3 linked regions of the Homo sapiens genome follow. The protein of the gene in region 1 purifies or fractionates together with the protein of each later gene. This does not show direct contact. Each region holds a gene or a part of one and is shown in the gene's direction. Other genes may lie near its edges. The genes, in order: ST8SIA5, TMEM132A and CLSTN1.

Region 1 (3,647 bases):
AGAACCATAATCTGTGCTGCCAATTGGCCCCTTAGAAATGTTACTGTGCACACTGCACAGAGGTGCCCCTGGGGGCGAGTGAGACCTGACACACTGAGAGTATGGCTGATAAAACACTCAGCCTGGACCAGGTCAGTGAGAGGCAAAAGCCTGTTGTCCAGACTTAGGGCAGAATAGAAGTCTCAGCAGTGGACCAGGCATGGTGGCTCACGTCTATAATCCCAGCACTTTGGGAGGCCAAGGCGGGTGAATCACCTGAGGTCAGGAGTTCAAGATCAGCCTGGCCAACATGGTGAAACCCTGTCTCTACTAAAAATGCAAAGAAATTAGCCAGGTGTGGTGGTGCACACCTGTAATCCTAGCTACTTGGGAGGCTGAGGCAGGAGAATTGCTTGAACCCGGGAGGTGGAGGTTGCAGTGAGTGGAGATCATGCCAATGCACTCCAGCCTGGGCGACAGAGCGAGACTCCATCTCAAAAAAAAAAAAAAAAAAGTCTCAGCAGCAGGACTCACATATCTCAGGAAACATGAAGCAATAGGGAAATGATGTGGCAAGAGAAAAACAGGGATGAGTGTGGGAGCCTTTGGCAGGGACAAGACAGCACAGTGCAGGGGTGGAGCTCTGGGCATGAGGGGTGTGGAGCAGTTTCAGGTGTGAGAAAAGGCAGTGACATCAGGCCTTGCCATGCTCTAAGTGAGAAAACCTTCCAGGCTGGTCATTGCCTCCCTTTGCTCTCATTTCAAGCTCATGGAACAATGATGAGATGCTTCATTCAGGCTGGCAGGAACCTGGTGCCATGAGGGAGTGTCAGGTGGGTGCTAGAAGGCAGGCATGAGCTTTCGAATTACAGGAAATGAATCCTGTAACAGGCCTTCTCCCACCCTGCTGCCTACAAATAGGCACACTGACATTCTGGTTTGTATATCAGTCACTTATGAGCTTGGTTAGTGTGAGTCAGTATCCCTCAATAGGAGTGATCTCCAGTGGGCTGACAAGACTGAGCTTCTGAACTAGCAAAGCTAAAAGGCCCAGATGCCAGTTTGTAATGCCAATCCATGGCCCTGCCTTGCCAGGCCTCTGGTCTCCTCTCTGGGAAGCTTCTGTTACATTCTGAAACCCAGCTCTCCACAGGAAATTCTGCTCTCTGTGACTGGGAGCCAGCTAGGCTTCCCAGTGAAGTACCTGCAAGAGATGAAATTAAAAAAAAAAACATTATAGGCCAGGCATGGTGACTCACACCTGTAATCCCAGCACTTTGGGAGTCTGAGAGGCTGAAGCAGGTGGATCACCTGAGGTTAGGAGTTCGAGACCAGCCTGGCCAACATGGAGAAACCTTGACTCTACTAAAAAAAAAAAAAAAAAAAATTAGCCAGGCATGGTGGTGCTTGCCTGTAATCCCAGCTACTTGGGAGGCTGTGGCAGAAGAATCACTTGAACCCAGGAGGCGAAGATTGCAGTGAGCCGAGATCGCACCATTGAACTCCAACCTGGGTGACAGAGTGAGACCCTGTCTCAAAAAAAAAAAAAAAAAAATCATAAAACATTCCTGGCTTTTGCAAGCTGGAATCACAAATTACAGAGGATTAGAGGTAGAAGAGCCAAGCCTGTATGAGGAAACTAGGGCCCAGAGAGAAAGAGAGAGACCTTCCAGTAGCCTCACAACTGGTCGGGGCAGAGCAGAAGCAAGAATCCAGGCCTCTTGACACCAGGACGGCAGCCCAAGTTTCCATGCCAGGCCTGGCTGGGAGCTCTTTGGAAAGCTCCTCCTTACCCTCTATTAGTGGCCAGGACTCAGGCTCCGTCGAGGAGTTCCATACAGTGCAGACAGGGGCAGCTGGGTGGGGCTTCATGGAAAGAAGCCTGGCCTGGGCCCTGAATGAGTGGCAGAAGGCAGGGGCCTTGGGAGAGGCGTTGAAAAGGGAGGGGACTGCATGAGCAGAGGTGTAGGTTGGGGGCAAGCCTGGGAATGAGTGGGCAGGAGAGGCCTCGGCTCCATGCAGGGTGGGGATGTGTGTGGGATGGGTGGGCAGGAGAGGCCTCGGCTCCATGCAGGGTGGGGGCAAGCGTGGGATAGGTGAGCAGGAGAGGCCTCGGCTCCACCCCTCTGTTCTCCGTGAGGTTGTGCTCTGCCCTCCATCACATCTTTCCTGCATCACGTCTTTCCTGCCTGTCTCCCTGCCTGGCAGGTCTACTCTGTCCAGGTGCTGCAACGCCCCTGCCTTTCTCTTCACCACCCAGAAGAACACTCCCCTGGGGACAAAGCTCAAGTATGAGGTGGACACCAGTGGCATCTACCACATCAACCAGGAGATCTTCCGCATGTTTCCCAAGGTGCTGCTTTGGGCGGGGGCGGTCTGGGTGGGGCGAGGGAGCCAATCCAGCAGTAGCCCTCCGTGGCAATGTCCCTGGGGTTTTGCCTGACTCACTCACGGTCCTCTGGACTCAGTTGTCTTGGTCCTGGTTGACCAGTTGTCTGAGGTGCAGAAGCCCACCCTCTGGATTTCTTTGGGGGTTCTGTCTGAGAACCATGACTGCCAACTGTCTATGATTTGAGTGACTTTTGGCGAGAAAGTGACTAGAAAATTCTGGGTATTGCATTGCTTGCAGAGGATATCCTGCAGATAGGGAGAGAATGACAACACATTCGTCCCCCTCCTGAGGTAGGCACAAGAGCAAACGCACATGCAGAAGTTGTGAGCACAAGAAAGAACAACCCAGTGCAGATCTAGACTCTGAAAGATTCAGCTCACTTGATGACCGTGGGCAGATATTTTGTCTTTCAAAGCCTCAATCTCCTTATTTGTAACACTGGGGCTTGGACTATGAATAGATTTGGCTGATTATAACAGAACTTCTAAAATATCAGAGTCTTAATCAAGATAGATATTTATTTTTTTCCTTTCACATAAAAGAATTCTGGAGGTAGGCTGTGCAGGGCTGGCACGGTGGCTCCCTGGTCATGGAGGACCACAAAATGAATGAGCCGCAGACCTGAATGGTTCAGATCACTGACCTTGGCCATTGAGGACCGCAGTGAGTGAGCTGCAGACGTGAACTGTTCAGATCACTGATGCTGAGCACCTGCAATCACCTGGGCTGACGGTTGGTGCAGACTCACCGCACTACTCTCAGAGAAGGGGCGCTGGAACCTGCGCTTTCAGCCAGTTCTGGCAATTACCCAGGTGTGGTGGCGTATGGACTCTGAAGAGGAGGAAGGTTGCATGGGTGTGTTCATAACCACATTCAGGAGAGCTCTGGGCCCAGGACAGCATTCAGTGAATGTAGTTTATAGAAATTCTGAGTGGGGGCATGTAGAGGTCTTTTTGGAAGAAATCTGAAGGCCTTGGCTGCCTTGCTTCTTGGCTGAGTGCGAAACAAAGCCCAGAGTTCCCTGCATTCTGTGACTGGTACCAAAGTGTATAGGTAAGACTCATGCATTCTGGGGATGTGGGGGAGGAGCTGCAGGTGAGCGGCGTCAAATGTGTTCTCAATCACTGTGGCCCTAAGGGAGGATGGTGCTGAGCCACCTTTATGAGGTGGGTCTTACAAGGCCTGGAACATGAGGCTGGTGACAGCAGGTGGATTTGCATCTCACGCAGGTAATGCCAGTGGGTGTAACACAACTTAGTATGACATACAGATCCAA
Region 2 (3,647 bases), on another chromosome or scaffold:
CCGGGCCTCCTACCCACCTTTTGCCACTCAGCAGGTAAGGAGGGGGCACCGGGGACTCTCAGGCTAACAGGACTCAGGGCCTGAGGTCTGCTGGGTACAAATTGGGAGCCTTCCCCAGCCCCGGCTGTGCTCCCCATATTCCAGAGGGGGAAACTGAGGCCCATAAAGGTTCTCTTCTGCCAAGCTGGGATCCCATCTTCCTAGATCTTCCCCTCCCAAGCTCCTCTTTTGTTAAGCCCTCTCATTCTCCCTCCAGGTGGTCCCCCCTCGAGTCACTGAGCCCCACCAACGGCCAGTCCCATGGGACGTGCGGGCCGTTTCAGTGGAAGCGGCTGTGACTCCAGCAGAGCCCTACGCCCGGGTTCTCTTCCACCTCAAAGGGCAGGATTGGCCACCAGGGTCTGGCAGCCTGCCCTGTGCCCGGCTCCATGCCACACACCCTGCCGGCACTGCTCACCAAGCCTGCCGCTTCCAGGTGAGTAGACAGGCCCCACCTAGGCTGGTCCTGCTGCAGCTGCATCAGCCAGGTGGTGGGCCCGCGGCAGAGAGGAAACCCCCACTCCTGGGAAGCGCGGGGGTTGTGGACCACCCGACTCCATTTCTGCCCCCACTAGCTTTCAGTGCTGTGAAAAGGTTATTTAGGGCCCCAGAGGGAGTTCAGTCCTTGGTGTGTGACTTTGAGTAAGTAACTTAATCTCTCTGAGATTCAGTTTCCTCATCTGAAGAATGGGGTGTTAAGAATTCCTACCCCATCTGGAGTTGGAGTAAGGAACAAGTGAGATGAATGTAAGGATAGCTTACGGCAGAGTAATCAATCAGCCAGTGTGTTTGCATTATTAGTAGTGTTACTTTTATAATTGCTATTTCCACTATTTTGGAGTCTAGCACAGGAATCCATGGGAGAGGCGTCTCTTGAGCTTTAGGATTCTGAGAAGAAGACTGGATTCTAGGCAGGATAGTCCTGGGCTTGGTTAGGGTAAGGCCCTGGGATTGGCTTACTTTGTAATGAGACCTATCCCAAGGGCTGAAGAGTGGTCTGCGGACATGCTCTGAAACCTAGACCTGGTTTGAAGCCCCAGCCAGGTTGCTGGTTTGCTGTGTCACTCAGGCTGTGTCTCCGGCCCATGCTGGGCCTCCCTTTCATGAGCCCCTCCAGCTCTGGGTTTCCTGCCATGGGTGCTGAGAATCCTGTTCCTCGCCCTGCACCCACCCCCATGCCAATTACTGCTGTCGTGTCTTCACAGCCATCCCTGGGCGCCTGCGTGGTGGAGCTGGAGCTTCCCTCGCACTGGTTCTCACAGGCCTCCACCACACGGGCCGAGCTGGCCTACACGCTTGAGCCTGCAGCTGAGGGCCCTGGGGGCTGTGGCTCCGGCGAGGAGAACGACCCTGGGGAGCAGGCCCTCCCAGTGGGGGGTGTGGAGCTGCGCCCAGCAGACCCCCCGCAGTACCAGGAGGTACCTCTGGACGAGGCTGTGACTCTGCGGGTGCCTGACATGCCAGTGCGGCCCGGCCAGCTCTTTAGTGCTACCCTCCTGCTTCGGCACAACTTCACAGCCAGCCTCCTGACCCTGCGGTGAGCACCAGGCCACGGGGATGGGTGAGGGTGGGAACCTCTGTGGGAAGACTAGGGACAGGTACCTGCTCCTCCTGGGGTCCTTGCTGGAATCCTTGACCTCTGCAAAACATGTGTCCACCAAACTAAACTCCTTCCAGGTAAAAAGCCATGACTGTGCTGGTAGGAGCCCACCATGGGCACAGCCCTGGAATTAGAGTCAGAAGTAGGAAGCTGCCCCTTCCCCTGGCACCTCCCTGAGATTCCTTTGTCCAATGGGGCTAACGGTCCACCTTCAGGGCAGCTGCAAGTCTCCAGGGAGGGGAACCCGCAAAGGGCTTAGAGACTGCAGTACCTAAGTGTGAGCTCTTGCTCCAGTGCTCCAGAGAGGGATATTTGCCCCAATCACGTTCACCTACATGCTGTCCCTCCTTGCCACCCTCGCCGTAGGAGTCTAGCCTTTGGACAGAGCTTGCTCTTCCCCATAGGAAGGCCCTGATTCTTTGTGTCCTTTTCCGTAATAAGTTCCCCCAAAGCAGCCCCCACCCACCTACCCAGTTCACCCGGCAAGGGCTTGCAGAGTATGACTTGCTTCTGGAGTCCAGCGCAGGAATCCATGGGAGAGGCATCTCTTAGGCTTTAAGATTCTGAGAAGCCTGAGTTCTAGGCAGGATAGTCCTGGGCTTGGTTAGGGTGAGGCACTGGGACTTGCTCACTTTGTAATGATATCTTTCCTGAGGATCGAAGAGCGGTCTGTGGACATGCTTTGAAACCTAGACCTAGTTTCAAGCCCTGCCTGGGTTTGTGCATGTCCCGTCTCTGTGTCTCCCCATCTCCTACGCCCTCCTATGCTCACTCTTATTAAGCAGATCTTTCCTAGACACTTACAGCCTGCCAAGCCCTGTGTCTTCACTCTGCAGATCCAAACACGAGCAAGGGCCAGTCCCTATCTGGCAGAAAGGGGCCCCAGTGGTAGGGAAGGGAGCTGGATGGGCATGAATTGGATTAGAAGGCATGTGGGTGTGTAAGCACTGAGGGAGGTTCAAAGTGCGGTGGGAGCTCAGGTGAGTGGGTGCAGTAAGGGGGAAATTCATCCCACCACTGGAAAAGCTTTCTAAAGGAAATGGTCTGTGAGTTGTTGGAGGCTTAAAGCATCAGCAGGTAAAGTAAGAAAGGGCAGAGCAGGCTGAAGGCACAGACTGGGCAAAGGCTTGGAGTCACGAATGGGTGCCGTGTGTGTGGGAAACTTGTGTGTAGCTGAAGCAGAGAGTGCATGGAGAGATGTCACAACCGAAGTTAAGGCTGGACCAGACCCTGGAGGGCCCCCAAATGCCCGGCTAAGCTTTGACCTTATGGGCAGTGGGGAGGCGTAAGTGGTCTTTGGGTGGGGGAGAGCTGTAAGGTGTGAGCTGCACTGAGGCGGGGTCCTTCTGGGTTGGAGGATGGTGAAGAGGAGATTCAGACTGGAGCCAGGGAGGTCAGATGGCTTTGGCTCCTTGTCTTTCCCCTTCAATCCAGCCCACAGTTCAGCATGCACCTTGCCAAACTGAGCCTATACTCTCTTCCCCAGGATCAAGGTGAAGAAGGGGCTGCATGTGACAGCCGCCCGCCCAGCCCAGCCCACACTCTGGACTGCCAAGCTGGACCGCTTCAAGGGCTCCAGGCACCACACCACCCTCATCACCTGCCACCGTGCTGGGCTCACAGAGCCAGATTCCAGGTGGGCAGTTTCCCTCCACCCAGGGGGCAAAGGAGGGAGGGCTGGTTATAGAGTGCAGTTGAGCAGATTTGGAGGCTGCCATGCTGCCTCTAGATCCCCAGGTGAGCAGACCCAAGGACAGATTTTTTCAAGGAAGCAGCACAAAGCAGGCATAATCCATTCCTTCATTCATTCATTCGGCCACTATCTTCCCAGCCCCAGCCATGTGCCAGGCATAGCAAGTGTCTGTGAGTCTTATTCTAAGAGATGCCAACCAATCCTGTGCCCCAGGTAGAGCCCTCATAGCCACTACTCCATCCCCCTGCTTCCACCAAATGATCCTTTCTCTGGGCCGTTCACATTCCCCCAAAAAGCCCAGCTGCAGTTCTGCGG
Region 3 (3,647 bases), on another chromosome or scaffold:
CGCTGTTTCACCCAAGCTGGAGTGTAGTGGCACGATCTTGGCTCATTGGAACCTCCGCCTTCCGGTTTCAAGTGATTTTTCTGCCTCAGCCTCCCGAGTAGCTGGGATTACAGGTGCCTGCCACCACGCCTGGCTAATTTTTGTATTTTTAGTAGAGACGGGTTTCACCATGTTGGCCAGGCTGGTATCAAACTCCTGACCCCATCATTCACCTGCCTCGGCCTCCCAAAGTGCTAGGATTACAGGCGTGAGCCACCACACCCGGCCTAGGTTTTTAATAAATGAATGAGTGAATAATTTTATCACACCAAATACTCTATTAAAGAAGTAAAGGCCCTACATTAAAAATTGAAAAAGTCTGCTTCTCCCTTAGGAAGGTTATTTTGTTGTCATATTTATCTTTTGCTGTAATTCCTAAGGGCATAAACTTAATCATTGTTGGCCAGGTGCAGTGGCTCACACCTATAATCCCAGCACTTTGGGAGGCTGAGGTGGGAAGATTGCTTGAGCCTAGGAGTTTGAGAGCAGCCTAGACAATGTAGGAGATGCCATCTCTACAAAACATAAACAGCCAGGTATGGTGGCACATGCCTGTGGTCTCAGCTACTTGGGAGGCTAAGGCGGGAGGATTGCTTGAGCCCGAGAGGTTGAGGCTGCAGTGAGCCATGATTGTGCCACTGTACTCCAGTCTGAGTGTCAGAATGAGACCCTGTCCCTAAAAAACAATAACAACAAAAATTGGCCAGGCACGGTGGCTCACGCCTGTAATCCCAGCACTTTGGGAGGCCGAGGCAGGCAGATCACCTGAGGTGATTTTCACCTGAGGTCAGGAGTTCATGACCAGCCTGGCCAACATGGAGAAACCCTGTCTCTACTAAAAATACAAAATTAACCAGGCATGGTGGCACGCGCCTGTAGTCCCTGCTTCTCGGGAGGCTGAGGCAGGAGAATCACTTGAACCTGGGAGGTGGAGGTTGCACTGAGCCAAGATCACATCATTGCACTCCAGCCTGGGCAAAAAGAATGAAACTCCGTCTCAAAAAAAAAAAAAAATTAGTCACTGCTGGTGGAAGTAGGCTGGCTCGCTGCCACAATCCTGAGTGTGTTGCTGCACCTCCTGCCAGTTAGGAACTGCAGTTGTAGCAGAGAGGGCTTTGGACAAGACAACATAGAACAGGGGTCGCCATACCTCAGGACGTGGGCCAGTACTGGTCCGTGGCCTGTTAGGAACCAGGCCACACAGCAGGAGGTCAACAGCATGTGAGCGAGTGAGCATTTCTGCCCGAGCTCCACCTCCTGTCACATCAGCAGCGGTATCAGATTCTCACAGGAGCGCGAACCCTGTTGTGAACTGAGCATGCCAGGGATCTAGGTTGTGCGCTCCTTATGAGAATCGACTGCCTGATGATCTGAGGTGGGGCATTTTCATCCCAAAACCATCCTCCCACCCCCATCTGTGGAGAAATTGCCTTCCATGAAATCAGTCCTTGGTGCCAAAAAGGCTGGGGACTGCTGGTGTTCTCAAGTCCAGTGTCTTCTACAATTAGATTGTAAGCTCTAGTCTTTTCTAGAGCTCTAGTCTTTTCTCCACCACTTGCTAGCCCTTTGGCATTGTGCAAATTTAATTTTGTTGAGTCTGTTTCTTTTTCTTTTGTTTTATTTATTTATTTATTTACTTATTTTTTGAGGCAGAGTCTCGCTCTGTCACCCAGGCTGGAGTGCGGTGGCACAATCTCGGCTCACTGCAACCTCCACCTCCAGGGTTCAAGCGATTCTCGTGCCTCAGCCTCCCAAGCAGCTGGGATTACAGGCACGCTCCACCACACCTGGCTAATTTTTGTATTTTTGGTAGAGACGGAGTTTCACCATGTTGGCCAGGATGGTCTTTAACTCTGACCTCTGGTGACCCTCCTGCCTCAGCCTCCCAAAGTGCTGGGATAGGTGTGAGCCACCACACCCGGCCCTGAGTCTCAGTTTCTACTTAGCACATCTACTAAAGAAGGGTATGTGGGCGAGATGGTGTCACATAACCCATTGTGAGGGTCAGACCGATGGCACTGGGATGAGGAGGCTCATGGTGAGCAGAAGGTGCAGTGCCCCAGTGAGTCTCTTCTCTTTTTCCACAGTGTAATGTTATTGTTTCCCTTGAAAAGGTCAGATTTTGACCAAAGTCCTTGACTGATTCAGAAGCATGCCCTGACCATTAGCCCTTGAAACCTACAGTTTTTTTTATTTGTAGCCAGGTCTGATGACACCCTAATTTTCTTGATAACTGAGCTGGGGTATTGGCAGGTGGCAACGGCCTGCCTCTCCTGAACTCTTCCATTTGTTGAATCAGGACCAGGTGATGCCATGGACTCCAGCCTATTCCCTAGAAGTAGGACAGAATTCGTTTGAACTCTCAGAATCAAACCATTTCATGCTTTCTCTGTTTCATACCCCTTCTTCCCTTGGCTCTATTTTTTTTCTGGATTTTGCTACAAAATATGTTTCAACTTTATAATTGGAGAGCAAACAGACGTCTGGTATTGTTTATCTCCCTTCTGCCTGTCTTGTCCCATATTGTCAAAAAAAAACACCCAAGTCTCTTTTATTTTAGATGATTGGTTTTTTGCTTTATTCTTAGGATATGGAAGAATCGACCCAAATCCCTCTTTTAACTTTCTGTTATCTCCACACTTGAATGAAAAGCAGTGAATAGCTTGTTTAATTTTTGACTTCATCATATGAATTTCATGAAACAAGGTATCAGAAACAGGAAATTTTAAAGTAGGGCAGAATTGGGTAAACACACATACACACTCTCTGTCTCTCTCTCACACTGAAAACAAGCAGAAAAATATTTTTCTCCCTCCCTTTGTCCAGAGCAACTGTTCATATTCAGGTGAACGACGTGAATGAGTACGCGCCCGTGTTCAAGGAGAAGTCCTACAAAGCCACGGTCATCGAGGGGAAGCAGTACGACAGCATTTTGAGGGTGGAGGCCGTGGATGCCGACTGCTCCCCTCAGTTCAGCCAGATTTGCAGCTACGAAATCATCACTCCAGACGTGCCCTTTACTGTTGACAAAGATGGTAAGAATCGAGGAGCCGGCTTTTCAGCTAGGTAGACAGTCCCTGCTAACCCCACTGACTTTACACCCCAGCTTCTGTGCTTCGTCAGAACTTCATGGAACTCACAAGTTGGAGACCTAACCTGGTGTGTGTTTGCTTTTAATTGTAAAAACATTTAAGTTTCTACTTTGTTCCCTGACAACTTCTTCTCTGGAACCTGTAAGTCCTGTGTTCTCTTGTGGGGCTCACCTCTTTTTTGCTTTCCCACCAAAATCAAATAAAAATCCTCCTACCTGACATGGCTTTGTTTTTTTAATCTTCTTAACTTTCAGTCCACATGCATCTGAATGAGACTGACCTTTACATTTAGTTTGTCTCATTTTCTGTTCTCCATTAAGTTTTTTGTTTTTGTTTTTGTGGTTTTTTTTTGAGACAGTTTCTCACTCTGTTCCCCAGGCTGGAGTACAGTGGTGCGATCTCAGCTCACTGCAACCTCTGCCTCCCGGGTTCAAGTGATTCTCCTACCTTAGCCTCTCGAGTAGCTGGGATTACAGGTGCCCACCACCACGCCCAGCTAATTTTTTGTTGTTGTTG

The links.
Region 2: the proteins of ST8SIA5 (region 1) and TMEM132A purify together in Homo sapiens (affinity purification with mass spectrometry; one large-scale study listed by BioGRID and IntAct). This does not show direct contact.
Region 3: the proteins of ST8SIA5 (region 1) and CLSTN1 purify together in Homo sapiens (affinity purification with mass spectrometry; one large-scale study listed by BioGRID and IntAct). This does not show direct contact.

The regions. Positions count from the first base shown.
Region 1 is NC_000018.10:46,687,460-46,691,106, reverse strand, and holds part of ST8SIA5 (alpha-2,8-sialyltransferase 8E), read left to right. Parts: intron 1-2,187; coding exon 2,188-2,332; intron 2,333-3,647. UniProt on the Homo sapiens protein: Involved in the synthesis of gangliosides GD1c, GT1a, GQ1b, GP1c and GT3 from GD1a, GT1b, GM1b and GD3 respectively.
Region 2 is NC_000011.10:60,927,385-60,931,031, forward strand, and holds part of TMEM132A (transmembrane protein 132A isoform b precursor), read left to right. Parts: coding exon 1-34; intron 35-256; coding exon 257-475; intron 476-1,244; coding exon 1,245-1,576; intron 1,577-3,125; coding exon 3,126-3,275; intron 3,276-3,647. UniProt on the Homo sapiens protein: May play a role in embryonic and postnatal development of the brain. Increased resistance to cell death induced by serum starvation in cultured cells. Regulates cAMP-induced GFAP gene expression via STAT3 phosphorylation.
Region 3 is NC_000001.11:9,750,900-9,754,546, reverse strand, and holds part of CLSTN1 (calsyntenin-1 isoform 1 precursor), read left to right. Parts: intron 1-2,865; coding exon 2,866-3,074; intron 3,075-3,647. UniProt on the Homo sapiens protein: Postsynaptic adhesion molecule that binds to presynaptic neurexins to mediate both excitatory and inhibitory synapse formation.